4 linked regions of the Homo sapiens genome follow. The protein of the gene in region 1 purifies or fractionates together with the protein of each later gene. This does not show direct contact. Each region holds a gene or a part of one and is shown on either strand. Other genes may lie near its edges.

What was found.
Region 2: the proteins of DERL1 (region 1) and ESYT2 purify together in Homo sapiens (affinity purification with mass spectrometry; one large-scale study listed by BioGRID and IntAct). This does not show direct contact.
Region 3: the proteins of DERL1 (region 1) and FAF2 purify together in Homo sapiens (affinity purification with western blotting; 4 studies listed by BioGRID and IntAct, with this or other methods). This does not show direct contact.
Region 4: the proteins of DERL1 (region 1) and FABP1 purify together in Homo sapiens (affinity purification with western blotting; one study listed by BioGRID). This does not show direct contact.

What each region holds. Positions count from the first base shown.
Region 1 is NC_000008.11:123,010,844-123,015,491, reverse strand, and holds the end of DERL1 (derlin-1), read left to right. Parts: coding exon 1-45; 3' UTR 46-2,322; downstream 2,323-4,648. UniProt on the Homo sapiens protein: Functional component of endoplasmic reticulum-associated degradation (ERAD) for misfolded lumenal proteins. Forms homotetramers which encircle a large channel traversing the endoplasmic reticulum (ER) membrane.
Region 2 is NC_000007.14:158,756,510-158,760,009, reverse strand, and holds part of ESYT2 (extended synaptotagmin-2), read left to right. Parts: intron 1-428; coding exon 429-524; intron 525-2,576; coding exon of another isoform or gene 2,577-2,846; exon of another isoform or gene 2,847-3,005; intron 3,006-3,500. UniProt on the Homo sapiens protein: Tethers the endoplasmic reticulum to the cell membrane and promotes the formation of appositions between the endoplasmic reticulum and the cell membrane. Binds glycerophospholipids in a barrel-like domain and may play a role in cellular lipid transport.
Region 3 is NC_000005.10:176,489,885-176,493,384, forward strand, and holds part of FAF2 (FAS-associated factor 2), read left to right. Parts: intron 1-2,309; coding exon 2,310-2,448; intron 2,449-3,500. UniProt on the Homo sapiens protein: Plays an important role in endoplasmic reticulum-associated degradation (ERAD) that mediates ubiquitin-dependent degradation of misfolded endoplasmic reticulum proteins.
Region 4 is NC_000002.12:88,125,263-88,129,313, reverse strand, and holds the start of FABP1 (fatty acid-binding protein, liver), read left to right. Parts: upstream 1-1,251; 5' UTR 1,252-1,296; coding exon 1,297-1,363; intron 1,364-2,965; coding exon 2,966-3,138; intron 3,139-4,051.

The sequences.
Region 1 (4,648 bases):
GGGAGACACAACTGGGGCCAGGGCTTTCGACTTGGAGACCAGTGAAGGGGCGGCCTCGGGCAGCCGCTCCTCTCAAGCCACATTTCCTCCCAGTGCTGGGTGCACTTAACAACTGCGTTCTGGCTAACACTGTTGGACCTGACCCACACTGAATGTAGTCTTTCAGTACGAGACAAAGTTTCTTAAATCCCGAAGAAAAATATAAGTGTTCCACAAGTTTCACGATTCTCATTCAAGTCCTTACTGCTGTGAAGAACAAATACCAACTGTGCAAATTGCAAAACTGACTACATTTTTTGGTGTCTTCTCTTCTCCCCTTTCCGTCTGAATAATGGGTTTTAGCGGGTCCTAGTCTGCTGGCATTGAGCTGGGGCTGGGTCACCAAACCCTTCCCAAAAGGACCCTTATCTCTTTCTTGCACACATGCCTCTCTCCCACTTTTCCCAACCCCCACATTTGCAACTAGAAGAGGTTGCCCATAAAATTGCTCTGCCCTTGACAGGTTCTGTTATTTATTGACTTTTGCCAAGGCTTGGTCACAACAATCATATTCACGTAATTTTCCCCCTTTGGTGGCAGAACTGTAGCAATAGGGGGAGAAGACAAGCAGCGGATGAAGCGTTTTCTCAGCTTTTGGAATTGCTTCGACCTGACATCCGTTGTAACCGTTTGCCACTTCTTCAGATATTTTTATAAAAAAGTACCACTGAGTCAGTGAGGGCCACAGATTGGTATTAATGAGATACGAGGGTTGTTGCTGGGTGTTTGTTTCCTGAGCTAAGTGATCAAGACTGTAGTGGAGTTGCAGCTAACATGGGTTAGGTTTAAACCATGGGGGATGCAACCCCTTTGCGTTTCATATGTAGGCCTACTGGCTTTGTGTAGCTGGAGTAGTTGGGTTGCTTTGTGTTAGGAGGATCCAGATCATGTTGGCTACAGGGAGATGCTCTCTTTGAGAGGCTCCTGGGCATTGATTCCATTTCAATCTCATTCTGGATATGTGTTCATTGAGTAAAGGAGGAGAGACCCTCATACGCTATTTAAATGTCACTTTTTTGCCTATCCCCCGTTTTTTGGTCATGTTTCAATTAATTGTGAGGAAGGCGCAGCTCCTCTCTGCACGTAGATCATTTTTTAAAGCTAATGTAAGCACATCTAAGGGAATAACATGATTTAAGGTTGAAATGGCTTTAGAATCATTTGGGTTTGAGGGTGTGTTATTTTGAGTCATGAATGTACAAGCTCTGTGAATCAGACCAGCTTAAATACCCACACCTTTTTTTCGTAGGTGGGCTTTTCCTATCAGAGCTTGGCTCATAACCAAATAAAGTTTTTTGAAGGCCATGGCTTTTCACACAGTTATTTTATTTTATGACGTTATCTGAAAGCAGACTGTTAGGAGCAGTATTGAGTGGCTGTCACACTTTGAGGCAACTAAAAAGGCTTCAAACGTTTTGATCAGTTTCTTTTCAGGAAACATTGTGCTCTAACAGTATGACTATTCTTTCCCCCACTCTTAAACAGTGTGATGTGTGTTATCCTAGGAAATGAGAGTTGGCAAACAACTTCTCATTTTGAATAGAGTTTGTGTGTACCTCTCCATATTTAATTTATATGATAAAATAGGTGGGGAGAGTCTGAACCTTAACTGTCATGTTTTGTTGTTCATCTGTGGCCACAATAAAGTTTACTTGTAAAATTTTAGAGGCCATTACTCCAATTATGTTGCACGTACACTCATTGTACAGGCGTGGAGACTCATTGTATGTATAAGAATATTCTGACAGTGAGTGACCCGGAGTCTCTGGTGTACCCTCTTACCAGTCAGCTGCCTGCGAGCAGTCATTTTTTCCTAAAGGTTTACAAGTATTTAGAACTCTTCAGTTCAGGGCAAAATGTTCATGAAGTTATTCCTCTTAAACATGGTTAGGAAGCTGATGACGTTATTGATTTTGTCTGGATTATGTTTCTGGAATAATTTTACCAAAACAAGCTATTTGAGTTTTGACTTGACAAGGCAAAACATGACAGTGGATTCTCTTTACAAATGGAAAAAAAAAATCCTTATTTTGTATAAAGGACTTCCCTTTTTGTAAACTAATCCTTTTTATTGGTAAAAATTGTAAATTAAAATGTGCAACTTGAAGGTTGTCTGTGTTAAGTTTCCATGTCCCTGCTCTGCTGTCTCTTAGATATCACATAATTTGTGTAACCAATTATCTCTTGAAGAGCATTTAGGAAGTACCCAGTATTTTTTGCTGGATTAATTCCTGGATGCAGAATTCCTGGGTTTTCATTTTAATGAAGGAGGATGCTTGCTAACTTTGAGTGAGGAGTCATATCTGATTGTAGCATGCTTTATGGCATTTTTATAGCTTCTACCCATGGATCTGAGCCCTGGAACTTTATAAAATTAGTTTAATCCTGTTTCCTCATAAGGCACACACAGACTAGATAGCAGGTGCCATGACATTCCTGAGCCCTTTTTTTTTTTTTTCCTCGAGGGTGAACATCCCAGTCTGTATCTTGGGCCTTCGACAGGCCAACTTCACTCATCACAAGGTGAGGTGACAGGAAGCAGGTTGTATGTATGTCCCTCTTCTATTACTGGGGAAATACTGAAGCAATAGAAAAAGATCCCGCTTATTTAGAAGGACACATTGCCAGTATCATTGTGTTCTAAGCTACCTTTTGAATGACATGGATCTAATAATAGGCAATGTTGCAGTTGCCAACATCTTCGTTTATTGCCAACTCTGTTTCTGAGGTCCCTGCCCCTCTTACACTTTCAGCAGTAACTTAACACTCTGAATAACTAACCTTTGAAAGAAGTTACTCCTTTCTGGACTTTATACTGTTTTTTTCTTAGAAGGCTGGGCTGAGCAAATGGGTTTACTGGCAGTTCACTTGTTTGCCTTCCAGAGTGACTGGTGATCAGAATTGGCCAGGAATACCATGTCCTGTGTTTACTTCTTTCTTAACCCTCCCTCCCACCTTCCCTCCCTGTCCCTCCCTCTTTCTCTCCCTCTCTCCCTCTCTGTCTCTTCTTTCTTTGTTTTTTTGAGACAGGATCTCAGTCTGTCACCCAGGTTGGAGTGTAGTGGCATGATCTCGGCTCGCTGCAACCTCTGCCTCCCAGGTTCAGATGATCCTCCCACCTCAGCCTCCTGAGTAGCTGGGACCACAAGTGTGTGCCACCACACTCGGCTAATTTTTTGTATTTTTGTTCGAGATGGAGTTTCACCATGTGGCCCAGGCTGGTCTTAAACTCCTGAGCTCAGGCAAGTCACCTGCCTCGGCCTCTCAAAGTGCTGGGATTACAGGCCTGAGCCACGGTGCCCAGCCTTTCCCACGATTTATATGTGTGGTTTAAACCTAGGCTCCTTCCCGTACGGTCCCCTTATCTCACATCAACTCTGCTTGTTCCAGTAGGAACGCCGTGTTCGGGGCACACCTGGGCACTGAGCATTAATGTGCCAGGTACTTTATGAAAAAGCCTCCAATTTACGGTTTTTAAAATCTGGCTATACATAAGCATTAAACTTGAGATTTTAAAAAAATGCAGGTATCTTGGCTCATTCCCATTCTACATACTTTTGAAGTTGATTCTGACGTTCAGCTGGATTTGGGAACTTGTGTTTAAACAAACTTGTGAAATAGTATTATCCCCATTTTCCAGATGAGGAAACTTAAGCTTCAAGTCCCTTGATTAAAATCAGGCAGCGGCCAGGTACGGTGGCTCACGCCTGTAATCCCAGCTCTTTGGGAGGCTGAGGTGGGTGGACCTTCTGAGGTTGGGAGTTCGAGACCAGCCTGACCAACATGGAGAAACCCCATCTCTACTAAAAATACAAAAATTAGCTGTGCGTGGTGGCATATACCTGTAATTCCAGCTACTCGGGAGGCTGAGGCAGGAGAATGACTTGAACCCAGGAGGTGGAGGTTGCGGTGAGCCGAGATTGTGCCATTGCACTCCAGCCTAGGCAACAAGAACAAAACTCCGTATCAAAAAAAAAAAAAAAAAAAAGCTAGAAGGTGCCAAAGACAGGATATGAACCCAACTCTGTTGTGGCTTTTCAGTGAAGGAAGCCAAAGCAGATGCAAATAGACGATGTCTCTGTCTTCACGATGCGTCCTTTCTACTGAGGCAGTCAGCTTGGCCCATTGTAGGTACTCATATTTGTTTAATAAGCAAACAAGTCATTATAATACAATTCACCAAACTACCAGAATAAAAGGAAGTAAATTTCTTGGATGAGAGGCTAGGTCTTGAAAGATTGATGGACAGTTCTGGTCAAGATGGAGGAAGCCACTTGTTCTAGGTGGATTTAGAAACAGCAGCAGCAAGAGCAGAAACTTGGGAAGAGAGAACCGTGTGCCTGGACCTGTAGAATACAGGTAGGGAGTGGCAGGGAAAGGGGTTGGGAAGATAGATTGGGGCTTGTATCAGGAAAATCGTTTTGTGTGATTGCTTGAACTTCAATCTGCGGGCAGTGGGGAACATTGAAAGGCCTTCATGTTTGGTCTTTAAAAAGTAGCTGGCAGCCAGGTGTGCTGTCTCACACCTGTAATTCCAGCACTTTGGGAGGCCGAGGCTGGTGGATCACCTGAGATCAGGAGTTCGAGACCAGCCTGGCCAACATGGCAA
Region 2 (3,500 bases), on another chromosome or scaffold:
CATAACTGAGCTTGGTCTCTCAGTTGTGTTGCTACTTGATTTTTTAACAATTATAGCAGTAATTTTCATTATTGTGTAATAAGTCACTACAGTAGCATCAGGGATAAATTAAAGATAATGGAGTTTTTAAAATGAAATTTATAGGTCCTTCATACCTGTTTTATCAGATCTTCAGTTTTGAGCTTGTTAAAGTGCAGGGATTTGTAGAGCCAGAAATCACCTGAGTGCTTCATTTAATTGACTTATATATGGAATAGTAGTCTTGTTATTTAAAAGGCATTTATTGTTTTAGTTCTGTCTCTGTTGCATGGATTGGATGGTTTCTCACCTTTCTTATTTTTAGCGTAATCAACATGATACAATCAGATAGAAATAGTATCTAATCCTGTGGAAACATGGCTGCTAAGGGCTTTTTCCTTTCCTTTTAGGTGCTAACAGACATCAAAGCTGACAAAGACCAAGCCAACGATGGTCTTTCCTCTGCATTGCTGATCTTGTACTTGGATTCAGCAAGGAACCTTCCGGTAGGTAACACAGTGGTAACACCTGTGGGTGCGTATTTCCTAGCAGCTGCTCTTGCTTATAACCACTGCTTTGTGCAGCACTCTGCATCACCTGTTCTCTTCTTGTTGTGTTTTCACTTCACGTCCAAGTGCAGGAGAGTGGCAGTGGAGAGGGAGAAGTTAGTGTTTGCTCTGGGAGTGCATACATTTCTGTTTACACATTTAGCTGGATTTGTGCAGTACATAGGAAAAGAAGATGAATAGTGGTTAGGAGAAGAGGTTAACTCTCTAGAAAATCACTAAGCATTAAAACTTAGTTGCCTTAGGATGGAAATTGTCTCTCTTTGGAATGGGAATAAAATGAAGCAGCTCTGATTACAAAATGCAGATTCCTCATGGCTGTCGCAGGGCCGTGCGTGAGCTGCTGGGCCTTGGCGATCCGTGGGGCATCAGATGGCAGAATGGTGCTGCTGCACAAGCGAGCTGGCCTCCGGGTGCCTGGGATGTTTCTCGCAGAACAAAAGGAAGCCATGTCTCGGAATGACCTACTGCCAGATACAAGACACTCTGTGCCTAGAAGCATATATTTTTGTTTGTATCAGAATTGTTCATTCGTAGAGAAAAAATGTAAAATGTTGTTTTATAGGTAATAACCGTAACCACAGAAAAGGAAGATCTTACTAATTCCATCTTGTGAGGCATAGTGTGCTCTCCCGTCATCCTACCTTAAACCCTGCTAGTGAGGATAGTGGTGTGGTCCTTAGTCATGTCATCTTGTTTGATGATTTTAGAGTGCCCATACACTTGCTGACTAGGCACTCAGTGTTTATTTCATCGTGTCCACAGCCGCTTTTGTTGGAAGAAAGACTGCTGCCACGCGGTGCAGAAGTTTCTTTCCTCCCCAAGTTGTTCATTGCATAATTCCTCCTCCACAGTAAATACTCATCCACCCAAGTGCATTTGTACATAAATCGTCTTCCTGTGTCTTTTCTCCCTTTGTCAGTGTTTACCAGGGAGATAGACAAGAAGGCAAAGAAGCGTTTAACTCACTTCTTGACACACATCCTGGACCTCAGTTATCGGCCTCTCGATCCCCTGTAGTCTTGCCTTGCCGTGGTCAGACTACGCTTCATAGTTCACGATATGCACGCCCTTGGCTTCCTCCAGCACCTTCCACGTTCTGAGAACTGTGCATTTCCTTGAGCTTTGCACAGAAATGAAGTAAATACTTGTGCACCCGTGCATTTTATTTAAAGTTACCTACAATTAAGATATGATTGATCACTTATATTTCATACTGGGAGGATGTGATTGTACTCTTTGTTGTATGTAATTGTATATAATTGCACTGTTTATTTCAATGAAGCTTTCTTGACCGATTTTAACTTCTTAGAAGAATTCTTACATTTCTCTTATTTACCTTAGCCTTTGATCAGTCTTCCAGTCTAAAGTCTGTGACTTTACCTGTTACAATTTCAATTTGGAAAAAGTTATTTCATTAAGTATTTAATCTTTCCACAGAATTTCTATACAGTAGAATTGTTTGCTTTTAGCCATGGTAATGTTTGTTGTAAAGGCTTCCATAATGCCTGATGGAAGTGAATTTGTTTTCTATTTTAGGGTAGAGAGAATAGTATCAGTGAATTGACTACAAAAGGTTAGGCCTCTTTAGAACTGTGTGTGTTGTCACATTAAATTGAAATTTGAATAATGTCACATAAGCAAAAAAAACAAAAAACAAAAAAAAAAAAACCCAGAGAGACTGTATTGATCTTCTGTTAAAAGGGCACTTTGTGCATGGAATGTGCTGTGGCCATCAGAAGCAAAGGATCTTTGCAGAGCCGCGGGGTGCCTGGCGCGGGATTAAGGGGCGTCCCGCGGGCTCTAGGATCCTTTGGCTCTGGATTAAGGGGCGTCCCGCGAGCTCTGGGATCCTTTGGCGCTGGATTAAGGGGCGTCCCGCGAGCTCTGGGATCCTTTGGCTCTGCCTCTCACTGTCTGTGGTGCTCCTGGTGCTCTCATTGACCACAATCCACCGTTCTCTGCTTTCTCCCCTGGCTCCACTGCCCTAAGGGCATCTACGAGGGAAACTTTGGGTGTGGCTACTTAAAAGAGAGGCGAGCGTCGGGACTAGTGTTTTGTGAAAATACCGCCTCAGTCTATAGAGCACTATTTGTGAGTCCTCCGGGGTTCTTTCTTTCTTTGTCTGTTTGGAAACTGCCAGAATGTGGACTGGAACTTCTAATGCAGTTGGCTGGCGGTGGACTGATGTTGCATGCTTTTATTTTCTTGCATGATTTTAACTATTGTGTATTTATTTTGTGCTTGTTTTGTGAAATGTAACACTGTTGTAACATTGGAGAGCATCTGACCATGAGATGAACAACCCTGGCTAGTAGAGAAGTGGTCCTCCATTCCTCAACTGCTACTGGCTCGTTGAAAAAAACCTCTCCTGAGGAGAAATGAAGCCATAATGATTAAAATTCATTTTCTTGTGGTTCATCTCAATGTGAGATGTAAATTTTTTTGTAAAGTTTCACAAAACTGTTTTAAAATCTATCCCCTCCTTTTTTTTTTTTTTTTTTTTTTTTTAATTTGAGATGGAGTTTTGCTCTTCTTGCCCAGGCTGGAGTGCAATGGCATGGTCTCGGCTCACTGCAACCTCCACCTCCCATGTTCAAGTGATTCTCCTGCCTCAGCCTCCCGAGTAGCTGGGATTACAGGCACCCACCACGACGCCTGGCTAATTTTTGTATTTTTAGTAGAGACAGGGTTTCACCATGCTGACCAGGCTGGTCTCCAACTCCTGATCTCAGGCAGTCCACCCCCCTCGGCCTCCCAAAGTGCTGGGATTACAGGTGTGAGCCACCATGCCCGGCCTATTATCCCTTCCTGATCAAACACGCAAGAGTCAGAACTAGGGCCTTCTTTGAAAACCCTGCTGTGTAATCAACTCTCAGTCATTTGGGGGATGGTCACGTGAAGATAGAAATTCAC
Region 3 (3,500 bases), on another chromosome or scaffold:
GTTGCAAACACTGGAACCCTTTTATGTATATACCCACTTGCTTCATACCTTCACCTTTCTTCTAGCTTCCTTCATGTACCATTAAAAGAGCTCATCATTGGAAGCTACAGAGGGTCCAAGGCCAGAAAATGAGTGGGGCTCAACTGGCCGGGCTCTGTGGCTCACGCCTGTAATCCCAGCACTTTGGGAGGCTGAGGTGGGCGGATCACAACGTCAGGAGATCAAGACCATCCTGGCTAATACGGTGAAACCCTGTCTCTACTAAAAATACAAAAAATTAGCCGGGCGCGGTGGCTGGTGCCTGTAGTCCCAACTACTCAGGAGGCTGAGGCAGGAGAATGGCGTGAACCCGGGAGGCGGAGCTTGCAGTGAGCCTAGATCGCACCACTGCACTCCAGCCTGGGTGAGAGAGTGGGACTCCGTCTCAAAAAAAAAAAAAAGAAAAAGAAAAGAAAATGAGTGGGGCACAACTTCTTAGCATGTCAGGCTTGGGTTATCTGGTCCAGAGCCATGTCTAGGCTTTATGGGGAACTTAAATGTTCAAGGGCATCCAGGCCAGCAGATGGAGCTGGGATATGTAGTCTGGGCCTTCCCTGGAAGTACAGGTTCCCTGTACTTCCCTTCAAATATGGGACAGCCTTTACCCTGCCTCTAGGGAGCAGAGGCTGAAGTTGTGGGTCCAGCAGCTGCATAAGTACAAGGGTCAGATAGTACCTTTTATATTGGACCCTTGGTGTTTTATGAGGCTGTCTACTTAATGGCTTTCTTGGTTTAGCAACATTCTTCATGATCACTAATTGCTTAGTACTCTTTCCATCCCCATTTTATTTAAGAATGAACATGTAAAAATCTTTAAAATCATAATGAAAACTAAGTTGACATCTCTGTTTTTTTCTAAAAAATCAAAAAAGCTGATTGTCCTAAATTGTGTAGATCGTGGGAATATTGTGTAATGAGGAAAAAAAAATAAAGGCTTTAAGAGAGAATTCTAAAATGCTTAATTTCAAAGAAAGTAGTTAAAACATCAGTCTTCTGATGAATTTCTAACCATTCCCCCACGTATACAACTTACTACATTTTGTGCTTTTAATTCGCTCTGGAACGTTGTTGTCAATGAATTTGGTTTGATTACTCGGGAGAAATTCCAAGTAGAATTGTATACACAGGGGGAATTTGTTGGGATAATGAATTGACTCACTTTTTGTTAAGGAAAAGTATCACAGTTTAATCACCTTGTCTGTGCTGAAAACGTTTTAAGTAAATGAATATTGTTTGCTTTTCTAGGGAAAATATGCACGGCATGTATTACTAATTTTAATGCAGCTGTATCATCCAACCAGCTTGTTTAATGTTAGGTAACACATTATCCTCTGTCCTGTTGCCTTCTCTGGAAACCCAAAGGATAAATAAATGGTACTATACAAATAGGGTAGGCCCTTTAGAAACAGATGTGTGGTACCATTAGGTATGTATTCTTCACTTTACAAGAGCTGCCAGTACTCCACATCTGCCAGGGTACTGTGGAGCAGTTTTATAACTTCCTCCATGGTTGCCATCAACCATAAATCATCAAGCAAAAGGTACTTGCCCCTTTGAAGAGCAAGTAAGTCATAACCGCAACTTCAGATTTGAAGTTCCTATCCGTAAGTTGAATAGTTTGGGGTTGTGAACTCAATATTTAAAATCCCAGGAAAACAGAAAGGAGAAGGAGGGGCAAGTAGGACAACCAGAAAATGACCTCTGTTCTAGAGCACTGTCCAGTAGAACTCTCTGTGATGATAGAAACGTTCTGTATCTCCGCTGTTCAGTATGAAAGCCATTAAACACGTGGCTGTTGAGCACTTGAAATGTGGCTAGCATTACTAAGGAACTGAATTTTAATTGTATGTAATAGATTTAAATTCAGAATAGCCACATTTGACTAGTGGCTACAGTACTTAGACGGTGCCATTCTAGAGAGTCTGGGTGCATAGCCTGACACATGATCTTTTTGGATACTGTGTCTTCCCTTCCAAACCCTTCTAGCCCTAAATTGTTCTACAAAAAATACTCAGGATTTATGTAGGCCAGTGTTGGAATTTATAATCCCAGTAGTTTGCATTCTTCCTGAACAGGCAATAGAATAACACTTGCTGCTTTATGGCTTTTGAACCAGACTCTACTCTCGGATTTGATGGTCCACTCACAGACTGTTCACCTCCCTTTGTTGCCGTGCCTCTGGCTCTGTTACAGGAATCTGTACAAATTGGCCCACTCGATATGCACTGTAGTAAGCTGGATTCATGTGATATTTATTCCTTCCTCCCCAGGTTTGCTCTTCGTTTTATACGGCCTGACCCTCGCAGCCGGGTCACTGACCCCGTTGGGGACATTGTTTCATTTATGCACTCTTTTGAAGAGAAATATGGGAGGGCACACCCTGTCTTCTACCAGGGAACGTACAGCCAGGTCAGTGCCATAAACCATATAGATGCCAACTTACCGAAATGATTCTATCCTCAAAGGAGAGCACAGCCCAGCACTGATCATGTCCTTCTTGTACTCAAAAACCTTAATTAGCTCTTCACTGCTTATAGGGGTGGGTAATAAAAAAGACCAAACCTTTTAGCTGGCCCCTCTTTGATCTAATGCTGCCCTTCTTTTGAGGTCTTTTCTGCATAACTTATTTTACCATACCCTCAGTTCCAGCTGACTCATTCCCTGAACATAGTCTGTACTTGCCTACCTCTGTGCCTTTGCTTTTGCCGGTCCATCCACGTGGAATGCCTTCCTCACATTTTTGCTAATTGGAATCTTGCCAGTCCTTCAACTAGATTATGTCACGCCCCACTTACAGCTATCCCTGATTGTTGTGCCCTGTCCTGCCCTATCTCATCATCTAGAATACTAATCTTTCCCTTTGTTCTTCCATAGCTTTTAAAAATTGATAGCAATTTTATATTCTTTCCTATATCATTTGTGTTCGTGTCTAATCTCTGCTACCAGACTGAAAGCCCCTTGAAGGCAAAGCCTACATCTTCTTTGATCTCTCACAGAATTGAATAAGGACATAGACCATAGACTCAGGGTAGCACATCTCATTCAACCTCAGCCATGTAGACCTTTGACTCAAGACCTCACCATTCAGGGGAGGAAAAATTAGAGTTCTGTGGGTGTTTGGTATATCTCTAGTTTGCCAGAGAAATACATAGAATTAACACTACAGGAATAGGGAAAACTATGGGAATGCTGTGGCAATAGGCAAAAGGGGGTTCTATTATGCAGCCTCCAGAATTCCTGAATCTATCTGGAGAAAGAAAAATGCTCACCCTTGCTTCCTGCTTTCATTTTCCCACATCTGCTTTTTATCATAGTCAGTCTCCTCGCTGGCTGTTCCCACCACACTCAACAAAAACTGAGCACCTACTGTATGCCAGGCAATGTCCTCAGTGCTAGAGATACAGAGATGAGTGAGATGAGCACCTCCTGTGTACCCTCTCTGCTATGATCCTGAGGGTAGA
Region 4 (4,051 bases), on another chromosome or scaffold:
TGGAAGTGTTATTGGGGGTGGCCATCATGACCCGTCACGTGACACTAGGCCATCCAGGACCTGTGGCCTCTGAAGTGATGGGAACCACTGAGGCTCATGCCTGGAGCAGTGGCCCGACTCAGCCTATGCTTCAGGATGATCTGTCTAACCACAGAGTAGAGGAGGCCCAGAGGATGAAGGCTGGAGGCTGCAGGTGAAAAGGTTGACGCCAAAGTCCAGACAAAGAAGGGAGAGAATCTAGGGGTGAGGGGGTGCTTGTAAGGAGCTGCCTCAGAGGCAGGAACTGGGACGTGCACCCATTGGGCACCACGCCTCTCTGTGCTTCACAACAAACTGGCACATCCCAAGGCCACTGGAAGCCCTGCTGGGCCATCTCCCCAAGGCCAGTGCTGTACACATAACCCTACAAGACCAGTTTCCTACACATAACCCTACAAGACCAGTTTCCTACACATAACCCCAGATCCCTTGTCCTGTCTTCTCAGTGGGGCTGGAGCAAGTCAGCAGGTGCCACTTTCTCCTGCCTTGTCTCTGCCTAATAAAATGCGTCTCAATGTTTTACACCTGCCATTTAGCATGGACTGCTTTAACACCTCAAAAAGGCCTGTGGAGGAGCCTATAATCATCAAGGAGGAATTCCCAGAATACAAAATAACACTAGCGGCTGATAACAACTCTAAAAAATAAGTTTGTGTAATAATGGGGGTGAGAAGAGATCATAAGGTTATGTAAATAAGGTGAGGTTTTGAGTTCAAAGGAATTCTCTGGTATTTTTCTGTGTGTGTACACATGCACCCACACACTTGTGTGTATATGTGTACAGACATATATAAACACATGCATATAATGTGTATATATGCATTACATATATGCACATTCATACATCTTTATGTACAAAATACATATATGTATATATAAACACCGATGTACAAACACATACGCACACATCTATATACATACACATGTGTGTGCACATATACACATACCTGCATATACACACATTTCGTGGGGTGCGGAGAGTCACTTAAAGGCTGCAGGGCCATAAGGCTTCCTGCTTGACTGATATTCATTAATGTTTGCTGAATTACAGCAAACCTTTGCTGTGCCCATCCTGTTCTTTATCATTGACCATTGCTCTCAGGAGTTAATGTTTGAACCTGGCCATAAAGGAATCAACAGCTGCTGACCTCTGGCCGCTATTCGAAGGGAAGGGAGCCCCCTATAAAACAGCCTACAGTGGACAGTCTGGTCGGCAGAGCCGCAGGTCAGTCGTGAAGAGGGAGCTCTATTGCCACCATGAGTTTCTCCGGCAAGTACCAACTGCAGAGCCAGGAAAACTTTGAAGCCTTCATGAAGGCAATCGGTGAGTGCTGGACTGAAAGGCAAAGCTGTGGGTCACATCAGTGAGGGTCTAGCTCTACCAGCAGTGGCTATTTAGGGTCCAAATGTTGAGATGGGGGGAGAGATTCAGGCTATATACACAAACTAGGGGGCATTTTACTGACTTCTGGAGTTATTTGCAGCAAGTCCTCACTGCACAAGGCCACCCCATAGGCAAGTGGAAAGAGCACTGAACTAGGGTGTGGTCTGGATTGATGGCCATGTCATTGGCACTTCGTTGTGTGATCCTATTCCTGCATTTATTCATTCTTCAAACAAACAGTGATTCAAGGCCAACCACACACTGAGCACTGTGCTGGATAGATACCAGGGAGACAGATGATAAAGGCAATAAGGCATTTTCTTATCAGGGAAGAGAAGAGAAGAAATAAAGGTAATAAGGCATTCCCTCAGGTGTATGGAGCGCTGACTGTGCCAGGCGACTGTGCTGACCATGGGATATGCAATACCCCATCTATTCCTTGCCAAAAAACTAAGCTGGGTACCATTATTTTCCCACTTTACAGTTAATGCAACTGAAGCCCAGAAAGGTTTAGTAATCACAAGCAAGGTCATGCAAGTAGGAAGTGTTTAAGTTAGGATTGGAAGCAGGCACTGGTTCTCAGAGACCCTGCTTTAACCCCTGTGCCTCCTAGGGTCATGTACAGGAGGATGTGGCTCACAGAGAGCATGGGGGGATGGCTCAGTGGAGGTAAAGAGAAGGCTCAGGCTGAGCTTTGGAAGACAGGTGTCTAGGGAACTGGGGGCAGGGAGCATGCTCCAGGCAGAGGGAGCCCTATAAGCAAAGGGTGTGGCATGGCAAGGGAGGGTGCCAAGAATGAGAAGGGTGCTGAAGACAGCAGGGGCAGGGAGAGAAGGACCTTCAGTGCTGCCAGAGAAGGATCTTCTGCAGGCAAGCCATACCACCTCTGTGTCTCTCATCTCTCCCTCATGCAACAGGACCCTCTGTGCTCACTGTCCACCCACAAAATTTTTGTGAACCTCAATTTGTATAACAGCATAGACAAGTTCTGAAACTGGTAAAGCTCTATCCCAGGGCAAGGGATTGCTGGTATGTCTTCCTCCAGAGCCTTGACTGCAGAGGTGGACACAGGCTTGCCTGGCACAGTGCCGCTTTGTGTATGTTGGCCTGGCATGATTATCAGCAGCTCCCCTTTCACTTGCAGGAGGGACCTAGCTTGGAAGATCAACTCTCTGGTCACCAGGGGTATGGGGAATGAAATGCTCACACTCCAAGAGCAAAGTCATCAAAGGAGGAGGGAATGAGGAAGGAGAGTGAGCAAGAACCAGGGTGCTTACAAGAGGAACGGTTCTTCAGGCCAGAAGAGTGTCCTTTTTATAAATTGACTGGCAAGATAGCAGCAGGCCAGGCCAGGTCACTGTCCCTTCCTTTCTGAGGCCACAGCCGATGCTGCTGACAAGCCCCCAGTGAGTTTCTGTGGCCCCTTGGGAGACACAGTGCCCTTCTCTGTCCCTCCATGTCATGTCGTTTCTCTCACCTACCTACCACGGTCATGAAACTCCCACCTCTGCCCATATCTAAACCTCAGACGGTTTCCACCAGGTCTGCCGGAAGAGCTCATCCAGAAGGGGAAGGATATCAAGGGGGTGTCGGAAATCGTGCAGAATGGGAAGCACTTCAAGTTCACCATCACCGCTGGGTCCAAAGTGATCCAAAACGAATTCACGGTGGGGGAGGAATGTGAGCTGGAGACAATGACAGGGGAGAAAGTCAAGGTAGGAGGGCATCCCTTCTGCTGTCAGAACTTTCCTTGGAACCTGGCCCTGGGACCTCATTCCTCAAGGCTCAAACCTCACAATTCCACCCACAGATACCATCTCTGAACCCACCTCCCATGTGGGAGAAGCAGAGAGACAAAGGCAGCTCTTAGGGAAGAATCTTATAGAGAAGCTGCTCTCCTCTTCCCAGGGACTGTCTGGGGGGTGTTCCAGCCCCTAAAGTCTGAGCTCTCCCATATGGAGGATATGGGAGAACCAGGCATACAGCAGGATTCTAAGTCTCAGGTTCTCCCAGGCCCAGTGCTCCTAGCACTAAGAGTCCTCTAAGCAGGGCCCAGGAGTGGGGCAAGTGGGAGTTTGTGAAAAACCCTTAACTGAGCCCAAAGTCAACTGGCCTTCACTGAACCTAGAGCTGGTGGTGATAGGGAGAGACTTCTTGAAGGAGGTGCTAGCAATACCAGAATACCAGGGCCCCAGACAGGTGCTCAGACCCTGCCTTCAGGGGTGGTCACAAAGTCTCTGGCTTCAGCCACCCCATCTGTAAAATAAGAACAGTCAACCTCCCTAGACTGAAGGCAGTGCAGGGCAGCATCACTTCTGCTGGGCACAACTCATGGTGTGCAATGACAGCTGGGGTGTGGGCTGTGTGAGTGGTTGGCAGATGGTGGCAGGGGGATCCTGGCAATGGGGGTGCCCGTCTCCTCCTCCCTCTGAAACACTCCATGCTCTAGCAGCCCTCTTCTCTCCTCCCCGTGGACAGCTCTGTTCATTGGGCTGGGCGTGTTTGCTTTTTATCTCTTCTGGTCACTCTTTATTTCTGCCTCTCCAATTAGAACATTACAGGTCAGGATGATTTTAGGAGGATAATATTCTTGATGTGCTCATGGTCAAGGGATTTAACTATGGGCCT